3 linked regions of the Homo sapiens genome follow. The protein of the gene in region 2 interacts with the protein of the main gene of each other region in a biochemical or structural test. Each region holds a gene or a part of one and is shown on either strand. Other genes may lie near its edges.

Region 1 (3,747 bases), on a different chromosome or scaffold from region 2:
TCTTCCATTTCATTGATAATTGTAAGGTTTAAAATCCATAACAATTTATATGAAGTTCTAGTTGGTCAATACTGTGATCCAGTCCTCATACTGAAACAATGTTAACTTACTTAAAATCCACCACAAAATATTCAATTATTTGACAGATGTTTAACAGAAAGAATAAGGGATCATTAATGATTCCATTTAAAAAATATTTCATCACGAGTGCTACTTTTACTTCAGATTCATGCAAATATGGTGCTTAAAACTGGATCATATTTCAATCCAAAAACCAACGCCCGAAGTATACGGATAATTTCCAAGAACAGAAAAACCATAAATAAGATATAAACTCCCCCAAATTCAAAATAAATTACATAACTTACTCTGTTTTCCTTCTTTGTTTGTCCTCAAAGATGTCATTGAGATTGATTGCCACCTGCCCTAAAAATTTATCCAGACCCACCAGGGACCTGTGCATAACTATAAGGAAAAGAATGTATTTCTCTGGACTTCCCTGAATTAGCAATCCAGGTAGCTCGAAAGAGGCCTCCTCCTTCCAAACTGGCTCAAGGGTTTTCTCAGCTACAGAGGTGGAGTACTTTTCCTTGCCCAGCTGAATTATAGTGTATGTGTCATTGGTACCACTTTTGCCTTTTGGCTTCAGATCTTTGGCTTGGAGCACTGTGACCTGCACGTGGGTTGGAAACCACTTTTGGGCTTGCTCGGACAGCATCATCCTGTCCTGTTTCTCTGCCCCCGAGTTCCCTAGCACAGGCAGTGCCCCTCCCGGAGGGAGAGCCTAATTCCTTAATCACTGCATCCTAAGGACACTTAACGGAAACAGGCAGGCTCAGGGCTCCCCGACTTCCCTATGGCTGATGTCAAAACGCCTCGCGGGGGCAGCCCAGGGGCACGGCCGCTCCGGGGGTCCCCTTTCGTCTGGAGAAACACAGAGGCCCACCATCACCTGGCCGCGCCGTGCAGGCCTCTGCGCGGACCCCCGCCCCTGTCTCCACCTTCCCCAGGCCTGCGGGGCACGTGAGGCCTGGCCACACGGACCCGGGCGGAGGGCTGCGGGGGTGAAGGGAGCCCCCGCCCCAATTCTGCACCCCTGGCCTCCCGCCTGCCTCCTTGCGGCCGAGCAGCCTCCGCTGCCTCCGCGCCTCCCGCCCGCCCGGCGTTCGTCCGCAGGCTCGGCCCGGCTCCTCCTCCCGACCCCGGTAATACGAACCGCCGGCGGCTAACGCGGCCTCGCTCCCTCTCGCAAACCTCTCCCTCCTCCTCCTCCCCCTCGCCTCAGCTCCTCCTCTCGGGCGGGAGCGGGTAGCCAGGGGTGGAGTGGGGGAGGGCGGGGAACGCGGCCGCCCCGGCGCCGGCGGGACGTGGGGCGGGCAGCGGGCTGCAGGGCTGCGGGCGCTTGGTTCGGCCTGGCCCGGCCGGCGGCTCCTAACACCGGGCGGGCGGCTGCGGCGGCACTTCCGGGTTGGCCTTCTCCATGTTGGTCTCGGGAACGTGAAGGGGCGGGGCCTCGAGGTCAGGGGTCAGCACCTCCCTGGTTGCCGTGGCGACTGGAGGCGCGCGACGCGGGCGCAATGGCGGGGACCCGGGGCTTGATGCTGCTTGGGCCTGGCCCAGTGGCGGGTCCTAGGGACGTGGGTACCTGCAGAGGCCGGCAGGTGAGCCCTGGGGAGGGCTGGGGACCGCTCGTGAGAGGAGGTCATCAAAGACCCGGAGACGCCCCTAACTAGGGCGTCTTTGAGGGCAGGGGATCTGTGTTCGCTGTGTCCTGGATGCCCAGTGCCTGGCAGGAGCAGGTCCATAAATGGTGTTGGAACGAATCAGGCCTCTTCACTGACCGAAAGGAAACTTTTCTCCAATCTCCTATCCACCCTTCTCTTTTTGAAAAGTCCGTAAATTGACTGAAAATGACATCCCCCACCCAGACGAAGGGCGATAGGGAAGCAAATAGTTTCCACAGGGAGTAGAGATGTAGGGAGGCACTGGGCTGGCATCAGAAGACCTGGTTCCGGCCGCGCCTCTGCCGCTATCAGTGTGTGTGACCTTGGCCGAGTCATTTCACCTCCATGAGCCTCAGTGTTTTCACGAGTAAAAAAGCCAGTTCTACCTCATGTCTAAGACTCCATCACGACTCTATGGGCTCGACGTCAAAAGGACCCCCGTGGGGACTCACACTGTGGTGGACTGTGCAAATCATGTGGAGACCATGCCCCAAACACGGGTTTCGAGTTTCAGGGGATAATACATGTGCCTTTCCTAGCACAATGCGGCACATAAATCTCCTTTTGCCCCTCTATTTCTCAATTGGAAGAGACGCTTATGTACCACCCCATTGCTGTTAATTCTGTTCGTGTCTTACCTTCCCAAGGAAATTCTAAGTTTTGGGACTGCCTTGTCTATCATGCAGTCCCTTCATAGTGGCTAGCATGCAGCAGACAATTTACTGAATTACTTAATGCCTTTTTTCCCTTTACAAGACTAATTTTGAGAGTAAAACAATATGATACATGTAAATGCACGTTTTTTTAACTTAAATGGCCATAAACATGTAAAGTATCGTGTTTATTATTTTCAAGCAAGGTTTAAAACTTCTCATTCAAGGCAGAATTTTTCATCCCTGGGAGACAGTGTATGAAAAGGCCATGTGTGGAAAACAGAACAAAATCATCGTACTGCGAATATAGCATCTGGATCCCAGAGTGCACAGTTGTCAACTTTAAAGAAAAATATTCTTAGGGATTTTTAAACAGTACGTTGGAACAGTCAATGGTGGAATTTCACCAGGATCTCTAAGGAGAAATAATTTGACACCTGAAACTTACAAAAACCAAATAAACATCATGAAATCAAATTTAATTAAGTTTAGAGTTCTTATACATTTTAAAAGTCTTCATGTCTCTATTAAAGGTTGTAATTAAACAATAGAAAATTATAATAGTGGATGTGTATTTCTGAAGAGCTTAAATTGGTAAGCTTTATTAATGATTATAAACTTGTTTACAAATATAATTTCACTCATCTCTGAAATATAGCCATCTCTAGGGTAGAAGTTGGCAGCAGTAGTTCACAGCAACTCAATAACATACTCCAACACAACTCAGAGAATACTCTAAAGGCAAGAGCTGAACAATTGGAATTACTAACCTCTCTTTCTGTAGCACCTAAATTTCTTTTGAGTTTTCCCAACAGCTGGCTAGAGCCAAAATTGTTTAGTTTTACTGGTGAAATCAGAAATTATGACTTAAAATTTTTTAAGCCAGAATAAGAAAATAACATATTTTTGCCCCCGGGGAAAGCAAATAAACAAACAAACCAAATGAGCTAAATAGAATCTGGGATTGCATTATAATAAGGAAATGACTTCCTATAGAATGTTTTCCTTTTTTGATTATATTAAGAGAATAAAAATATGACAGTGGAGTCAAAGATATGGTTGGCTTATAGTGAAAAATAATGACAATTACATAAGATCTGGGATCAAAGTGCTTCTCCCAAAATGTTTATTGTTTTACAGTTTTAAAAATTCTTTTGACTAATTCTAAGATATACATGGACAACAATTTAAAAAGGAAAGGATTGCGTGTGTAAGGACAACATACCAGAATTGAAGAGAGTCACTTTTTAAAAAATTATCCTATGACTAATGATACATCCGGAAATGTATGGTACAATTCCAAAATCAAAGTCTTGGGAAAATAATATATTTTAGAAGGAAAATGCTGAACATTCTAATTTTAAACTGTT
Region 2 (3,747 bases):
ACCGTGTAGAGTCGTGAGGCTGAGGTGTAGCTCAAGAAACTAGCATGCAAAACACCTGGACTTCCTGGGCATTACAGAGACTTAGCCAATAGGAACAGAATGGATCCAAGCACGGTGTGGGGATACACAGGACATGAAGAAGGCAGGAGACTAATGCGGAGATGAAAGGCAACGCTGATTAAAAGGCACAGTAAGGAAGATGGGGTGAGGGTGGAGAAACAGGAAGGCAACAAGCAAGAAAGAAAATACTCTAAGTGCCAGGCACGGGAGTGAAGACACAGAAAGTCATCATGGTTTGTGTTCCAGCGTACGAAGACAGAAAGGCAAAAACTGTGATGCAGCGAGGTCTGGGAAAGGACTGAGCAACAGGTTGTGTTAATACGGTGGGGCCAAGTGTCTTTGGGTTGGGAGAAAGAGCCCAGTAGAAGGCTGGTAGAACACTCACAGAGAGAAACAAGAGGCCCAGGGACCTAAAAGCCAAACCCGAGGGGAAGAGAACAAGAGGGATCCAAAGACTCTGAAGGGAGTGATGATTGGAACCCCAAACGCAACCTGTGGGAAAACTATGCGCATGACAGCTGTGGGGAAACACGGAAGCGACAAATGCCAGCGCCAGGATCCAGGGAGCTCCTGGAGCAAAGAAGGGAAAGTGATGAGCAAAGAGTAGGCGAAGGATTTGGAAAGGTGATGAGGGTGGAGCTGGTGGGTTGCAAGCAAGAGGGAGAGCACAATTTGGAAAACGAAGAAGCAGGGTAGAAAAAGCTGGGGGAACTGCAAGGGGCCAGGGATCGAGAGCGCAGTCCAGGGCAAGGACCCTGAGGGTGATAACCCAGAGACTGGCAGAACCGGTGCGGGCGGAGGGGAAGCGAGGCAGGAGAGACGAAGGGAGAGGTGGACAACGATCTGTGGCAAATCGCGGGGTGCTGCTATTCGAGGAGCGGGAGGGTGGCTGCTTTAAGCGTGGGTGGAGGAAGACCAGAAAGGCCCCTGAGAGAAAAAGGGAAGAGAAAGGGAAGCTGGGGAGGTGACACGGAAGAGCGCAGGAGGGCGGTGAGGGGAGACGGGGGTTGGCAGAAAGACAAGTGTGCAGCTTGGAGTCAGGACGAGGTGGGTCCCAGGTCAGGACTCGGAAGCGGGATGTGCGGAGCCGGAGCCAGGAGCCGGATGACAGGGCAGCCGAGGCTTGCAGGATGGCAGCAGGGGCACGAGGAGAGCAGAAGAGGGAGGAGGCTCCGCAAGGTGCAAAGGGCCCAGCCAGAGAATTCGGGGAGCCCTCGGGGCTCCTTACCTGCTCCGTGTCCCTCTCGTTCAGCGTGGGTAGGGGGGTCCGAGCGCTGGACATGGCGCCGGTATCTCGGGGGAGGGAACCGAGAAGCTTGGAGGAAGGGAGGGAAGGGAAGGCGCGGAGCCCGGCCGGGCGGGGCTTCTCACAGCAGGAGCACCCGCCGCATGGGCCCCGGCCGGGGGTGCGGGGAGGCCGGGCAGCCGCTCACGCCAGCCCGGGGATGCGCCGCTCGGGCTAGGCCGCGCCGGCTCCGAGCGGCTCCGGACCGCACCCCCCCGACCCCCGGCTGGGCTGTGCCGCCTTTCGGCCGGGCCGCGCCGCTCCGCCTACTCTCTGCCGCCGCAGCCGGCCGCCTGCCTCGCTCCTCCCCTGCCCTCAGCGGCACTGCTCCGCGCCCGGCACACAGGCAGCCGCCGCCGGACCTGCTGCTCCCAACATGGCCGCCACCACCGCCGGCCCTCGGCTCTTTTCGCCGGCAGCAGCCGGAAACATCCGAAGCGGCTAGAAACGGGAGGTGGGGCGCGCCTTCTCCTCCCGGCCACAGACTACGGGTGAATTCCGGAAACAGCCGAAGAAGGTAAACCCCGGGGACGCGCTCTCCTCCTCGATTCCGAAGACGAAGCTTCGGCTCTGTTTACGGAAATCCACGAAGCGACCCCGGGTGCCTACCCCCCGCCCCCGTCCACGGCCATCCAGCCACGCCCACCGGCCTTTCCCCGCCCACTTCAAGGGGGCTTTCGGCAGTTTCCGGAAATACCCGAAGCTGCTCCGCGTGCTGAGCCGGCCACGCCCCCTCCCACAGCCCTGCCGAGGGCGGTCGTCGGCCATTTCCGGCAACACCCGAGGCCCTCCGAGCACCCGGTCGTTTCCCCGGGTGGCTCTCGGAGTCTGATTCGCTTCGTGTCTTTCCGTCAGTTTTCGGGCATTTTCAAACCTTGAACAGGAAGCGTGGGTCACCTGTCTGTGCTTGTGATTTGACTAAATACAAAACAAGATTGTTAGCCGTCCCTGTGATTGGCATCCTCTGGTTCTATAGCAGCTTCCTGTCTGCATTTCTGTCCATCTGTCGGTCAGCTCATAAAATTCATCTTCTTTTTATCATCTAGCCTATCAATATACCTGTCAAATGCAGCATCAGTCTATTGCCTGTCTGCCACCGTCTATCTTGGCTTCTGTGGATTCATCCGTGCATTCCCGCATCTAGTCCGCAGGGCTCGGCAAGGCCCCAGGCAGGCCCAGGGCAGCGTCCTCTGCACCGGATGCGGGAGCGTCCAGGGCCCTGCATTTCAGCCCCAGCTCTGCCAAGTGCCAATGCTGCGTGATCTTGGAAAAATCACATAACATCACTGAGTTTAGGCTCCTCTTTCCTTTGCCTTTGCTCCTGCGTTGACATTCAAAATGACATTTCTGAATTCCAGTTACCTTTTAAAATGCCTCTGCAAGATAAGGCATTTAAAGTTTCTTTTCTTTCCTCCTCTGGGCCTCATTTTCCCCATCAGTAAAGTGAAGCCATTGGATTCATGAACTCGGAGGTCCTTCTCAGCTTTGGAGAGCCCTTGACTAACAGGAAGTCTGTATGGCAACTGCAGTCCATTCCTCACTTCCCCTTACACTGCGTTACCAAGGACAGGGAGTATCCTGGGCTGATTTCCCCAGCGCCAAGCTGTCCTCACCCATAGTACCTGGAACACGTTGGAACCACACCCTCCCATCAGTGGCTTAAGGTGGGCAGGAGGCAGAGGCCCCGCAGGAGTCAGAAACCAGACTCAGGCAACAGGTTCCCAAAGGTACAGGAGCAGAGAGGCTCCAGGAGTTATTGGGAAAACTGCTGATTGGACCCCTGCTACTTGACCTCCAACTCCCAGCTACAGCATCTTGAGCCAGCCTTCATCCCATCAATCAGAGAAATAGGCATCTGAGCAGATGTAATTACCAGGGTATGAAAGTACTTCCTAAGGCAACAGGTATCACTACACTCTTAGTAAATCCTGGGACTTCAGCACTGCTCCCCATGCCCCATACCAGCTCTATTCAGGCACCCAACCGTTGAGGAAGAAGGTGAAGGCACACCCATGAAGGTGAGGGAAAGAGAGAAGAGGAGGACAGAGAACACCTCACTCCCCAACCCAAATTCGATCCTTGAGAATCATCTGCCCTCTGGTGGCCAAAGGGAGACACGTTGCTGATTCCTGTGCCTGGTATCACCTCTAATGCCAGGGTCTGGAAAGCAGGGAAAAGAGAGAGGAAGCAGTTGGTGGTTGGTGTTCCAGCAGTCTCTCCCTGGTCCACACTCTCGTCTAAATAGACTCCATCTTCTCCAAGCTTCTCACTCTAGCTCTAACCCCTGCCTCACCCCTGCCCTTTGACCTTCATCCCCAACCCCTACCCTACCTATCCTTTCTCTTCCTTGCTAGCTTTGCACAAGGCTGCTGAGCTTGTCTCCCCGCCTAGACTCCCTCCAA
Region 3 (3,747 bases), about 29 Mb from region 2:
GAATGCCAGCAAGTCACTTAACGTCTCTAAGCATCAGTTTTCCTCCTGTCAAACAGGCCTGATAACAGGAAGCTTCTTACTAGGCCATTGTGAGGGTAGAATGAGATAACACATGGAAAATATTTAACATAATGCCTGGCACAGTGAAAATATACAGTAAATGGTAGCTAGCACTGTATTCATTTTTTTTTTTTTAACAGAGTCACGCTTTGTCACCCAGGCTGGAGTGCAATGGCATAATCTTGGTTCACTGCAACCTTCACCTCCTAGGTTCAAGCAATTCTCCTGCCTCAGCGTCCCAAGCAGCTGGGACTACAGGTGTGCACCACCACACCCTGCTAATTTTTGTATTTTTTGTAAAGATGGGGTTTCACCATGTTGGCCAAGGCTGGTCTCAAACTCCTGACCTTGGGTAATTTGCTGCCTCAGCCTCCCAAAGTCCTAGGATTACAGGCATGGGCCACCATGACAGGCTGTGTTGTTGCTATCATTATTATTATTATTTCAGCTTCAGTAGTATAAATCCTAGATCCCCAAATCCCCACCTAGCAAAGACCTCTCACTCACACAGAAAGGGAGATGCATATGCACAGAGAACTCATCCTGCCTAGCCTCCACCTAGGGTCACTTTCTTCCTACTGCAGAAAGTAGGAAGATAGAGAAAGCAGAAAGTAATTCAAGATACTTTATACTGGGTACTCAATCTAAACTACCTGGGTGAGACTGTGTGTTTCAATTTCTCAGTACTCCCGTGGAACTGGGTTAATAAATATTTGCTGAGTAGAATTTACTGCATGCAGGCTGAGCTGTCTTAATGACCCAGCTGGCACTTCTTAAAAGAAAGATTAATTTTGGCCAGCGATAAGCAAATCGGCCATGTAATTATCTGTACATACATAGACAAAGAAAGAGAATGCTTGGAGTTGAGCCGTGCTAGAATATACCTTACACGCAGCCCCTCCCCTCCATAGCCACCACAAAGCACTGACCCTGTTTGGATGAGATATTGGAGCCCTAGCTCCAGGGTCCCTGATGTTGCCCTGGTATCAAGGCTCTTCTCTCTGCTCTGAGGCTGCCAGGCAGGGAATATAAGCCACCTTACTGTTGAGATTTCCCCACACTGATTGGCAGAAGCAGGAGGTGGTGAGGACCAAGCAGCTGGTCCAGTGGTTGCCTCTCATATTCATGCTCCCTATCCCAGGCTGGAATCTCATGGAGACCCAAGACCTCACCGCAGAGCTGGTTCAAGCTTCCACAGCGCTAAGGTGGCAGTGACACTGCGGACTGTAAGCTTTGGAACAAGGCTCAGTGGGGAGCTGGGAGAACCCAGGACCCCTTTCTGGAAAACCCATTGCCAGCTAGTCTCACACTTGGAATTGTGATCCCTTCTGTGACCACCTTGATAACAGCCACTCGCCCTGTTCCAGCCCCAGTCTCTGCCCCGCCCAGCTCTGCCCTGCCTAGACACAGCCCGGTGGGGCTTGGCGAGCCCTTGGGCACAGGAGCCTGTTAGTCCAGACAACGACTGTGCGCATCCGGGAGAACGGTTACTTTCTGCCATGTGCTGCAGCTCTAGCGACCTCGCCCAAAACTGCGCGCCGGCAGCCTGCCCAACAAACTTTCTTCTCTTTCTCTTTTTCTTTCAACCAAATGGTGCTTCCACAGACACATTCTCCAACGGTTTAGCGCAAATCCCAGCCCTGCTTTCCGGAGCCCAATGCACTTCGCAGACAGCTCACTTGACTCCAGTCCCCCAGGGCCGACTCAGCCGGAGGGGCTGCCGCCGGGTCCGCGCTGAGCACCCCGCACCCATCTTGCTGCCCAGGCTGCGGCGGGCACTCACCGATCTGCGCCAGGCTCAGCGGCACGAGGCAGAGTCCCCAGGCTGCGTGCCACCAAAACTTGTCCATGGTGTCCGGAGCGAACGGAGGGCGCGGGCGAAAGGAGCTGGAGGATCCCTGGGCGCGGGGCAGGGGCCGGCGGAGGACGGGACGAGGATGGCGGACCGAACCTGGCAGAGGCTGGGGTCCGCTGGGCAATGAGGCTGCCTCGGAAGTTGGCTGCAGTTTTTATTCGAGGTTGAAAACAGTGACCTAAGACGGAGGGAGGGAGCGAGCGAAGGACACACCCAAGCAAGGGGGGCTGTGACTAAGCAGCCCGCAGAGGTTTTAAGAAGTAGCAGCCCTCCCGGGCGGGCCCCTCTGCCCCCGCCCCGTGCTCTGCTGAGGCTGTAAATAATCGGGGCTGCCAGGGACGTGGGTCGGGGAACCTGGAGTGTCGCGGGGTGCCTGTGCCTCCGAGCCCCACTGGCCCCTGCGCCCAGAGACGCACTGGCTTTCTTCTCCCGCTGGCCCCGCGGCGTCAGGACAGAGGATGACCGAACCGTAAAACCTTGCACCATTGGGTTCAGCCTTTGGCCTCTCCTTTCCCGCTAAATTTCTCTGAATCCGGCTGGAGCAAGATCTCTGGGTTTCACAGGATGTTGGATATCCTGGGAGAGGAGCTGGAGAGAGGGCGAGGTCTTGCCCTGGGTGGCGCAGTGCCTCCGTGCCCACAGTGGGGAGTGAGGGGTGGGGAGTTGGTGAATCTTCCAAGTGGAAAGAGGGAGAGCTCATTCTTTTTCCCCTCAATAACAAGTCCACATGGCTTGAATGAATTTTAGCTTCTTGGCAGAACAGCTCAGGGAAAGCTACTGATGGCCTGTCATAGGGCTGGCATTTGGCTCAGCTAACCCATGTGTTCAAGCCAGTGTGAATGGGCACCTCTCTCCACACACATGCTCATTCATCCTCCTAAATATCCTTCCATCCGCCCATCCATCTATCCACCCATCTTTCCTTATGTCCTTCTGGGGCTCTCACATCCATCCATCCTCCTGTCCATCCACTAACCACTTAGGTCCATCTATCATCCCACTCATTCATTCATCCAACCACACACCTTTTAATTTATTCAACCACCTATTCTTCTATTCATCTTCCCATACAACTTCTCATCCATCATTCCACACTTCCTTTTTCACATCTCTTCATAAAACCACAACCATCCACCATCCTCTTCTCCACCCATCCACCCACATATCTGTTTATTGATATATCCACTCATTTCCCATCTGTCCAAGATCAACATATCCACCTATCATTTTATCCATTCTCTCATCCACCCATACGTTCATCTATTATTTTTGCCCCCATTATCCTCCTTTCTGTGTAAACATTAATTCATTTTCTCCCATCTTTCCTACCCAGCAGATCTTAAAGAGAGGAAGAGTTTGTAATATTCTTCAGGGGAAGCCTTTTGAGATTGAAATATCATACTTTGAATGATAACTCTATATCTATCTATAATATACTATGGTTTAATGTTTGGAAATCAAACGCAGTATTTATTTGTCATGTGAACTACTAAAAGTAAATCTGCATGGACTTCTTGCCTGGTGAGTTACACAGAAAATGAAAGTGATTATCAGTGGCTGTGGCAAGATGAAAGGAACCATGCCAGGACTTCTGAGGGAAGGTAAGATTTTGTTATTTATTTCAAGAAATTGAAAAGTTGAGAGAAATGCACCCAGCCATCCCCCTATGCATTCATTCATCAGACATGTAATGAGTGTTGTGGGGTATCGAGGTAAATAAGACCTGGCGCTATCTTCAGAGCCCTCACCCTCTGGTACGGAATAAAACTCACAAGCAGGCCATTACCATGCAAGGTGAAATATGCTGCAAAATGTGTGTGTTTGGGGTGCTA

Evidence for each region.
Region 1: of the proteins of MARK2 (region 2) and RAB11FIP2, one has a biochemical effect on the other in vitro, tested with the Homo sapiens proteins (one study listed by BioGRID).
Region 3: the proteins of MARK2 (region 2) and CD44 form a complex in vitro, tested with the Homo sapiens proteins (one study listed by BioGRID).

Annotation. Positions count from the first base shown.
Region 1 is NC_000010.11:118,045,443-118,049,189, forward strand, and holds the start of RAB11FIP2 (rab11 family-interacting protein 2), read right to left. Parts: upstream 1,500-3,747; 5' UTR 722-1,499; coding exon 369-721; intron 1-368. UniProt on the Homo sapiens protein: A Rab11 effector binding preferentially phosphatidylinositol 3,4,5-trisphosphate (PtdInsP3) and phosphatidic acid (PA) and acting in the regulation of the transport of vesicles from the endosomal recycling compartment (ERC) to the plasma membrane.
Region 2 is NC_000011.10:63,837,102-63,840,848, reverse strand, and holds the start of MARK2 (serine/threonine-protein kinase MARK2), read right to left. Parts: upstream 1,740-3,747; 5' UTR 1,343-1,739; coding exon 1,289-1,342; intron 1-1,288. UniProt on the Homo sapiens protein: Serine/threonine-protein kinase. Involved in cell polarity and microtubule dynamics regulation. Phosphorylates CRTC2/TORC2, DCX, HDAC7, KIF13B, MAP2, MAP4 and RAB11FIP2. Phosphorylates the microtubule-associated protein MAPT/TAU.
Region 3 is NC_000011.10:35,137,467-35,141,213, reverse strand, and holds the start of CD44 (CD44 antigen isoform 1 precursor), read right to left. Parts: upstream 2,044-3,747; 5' UTR 1,911-2,043; coding exon 1,844-1,910; intron 1-1,843. UniProt on the Homo sapiens protein: Cell-surface receptor that plays a role in cell-cell interactions, cell adhesion and migration, helping them to sense and respond to changes in the tissue microenvironment.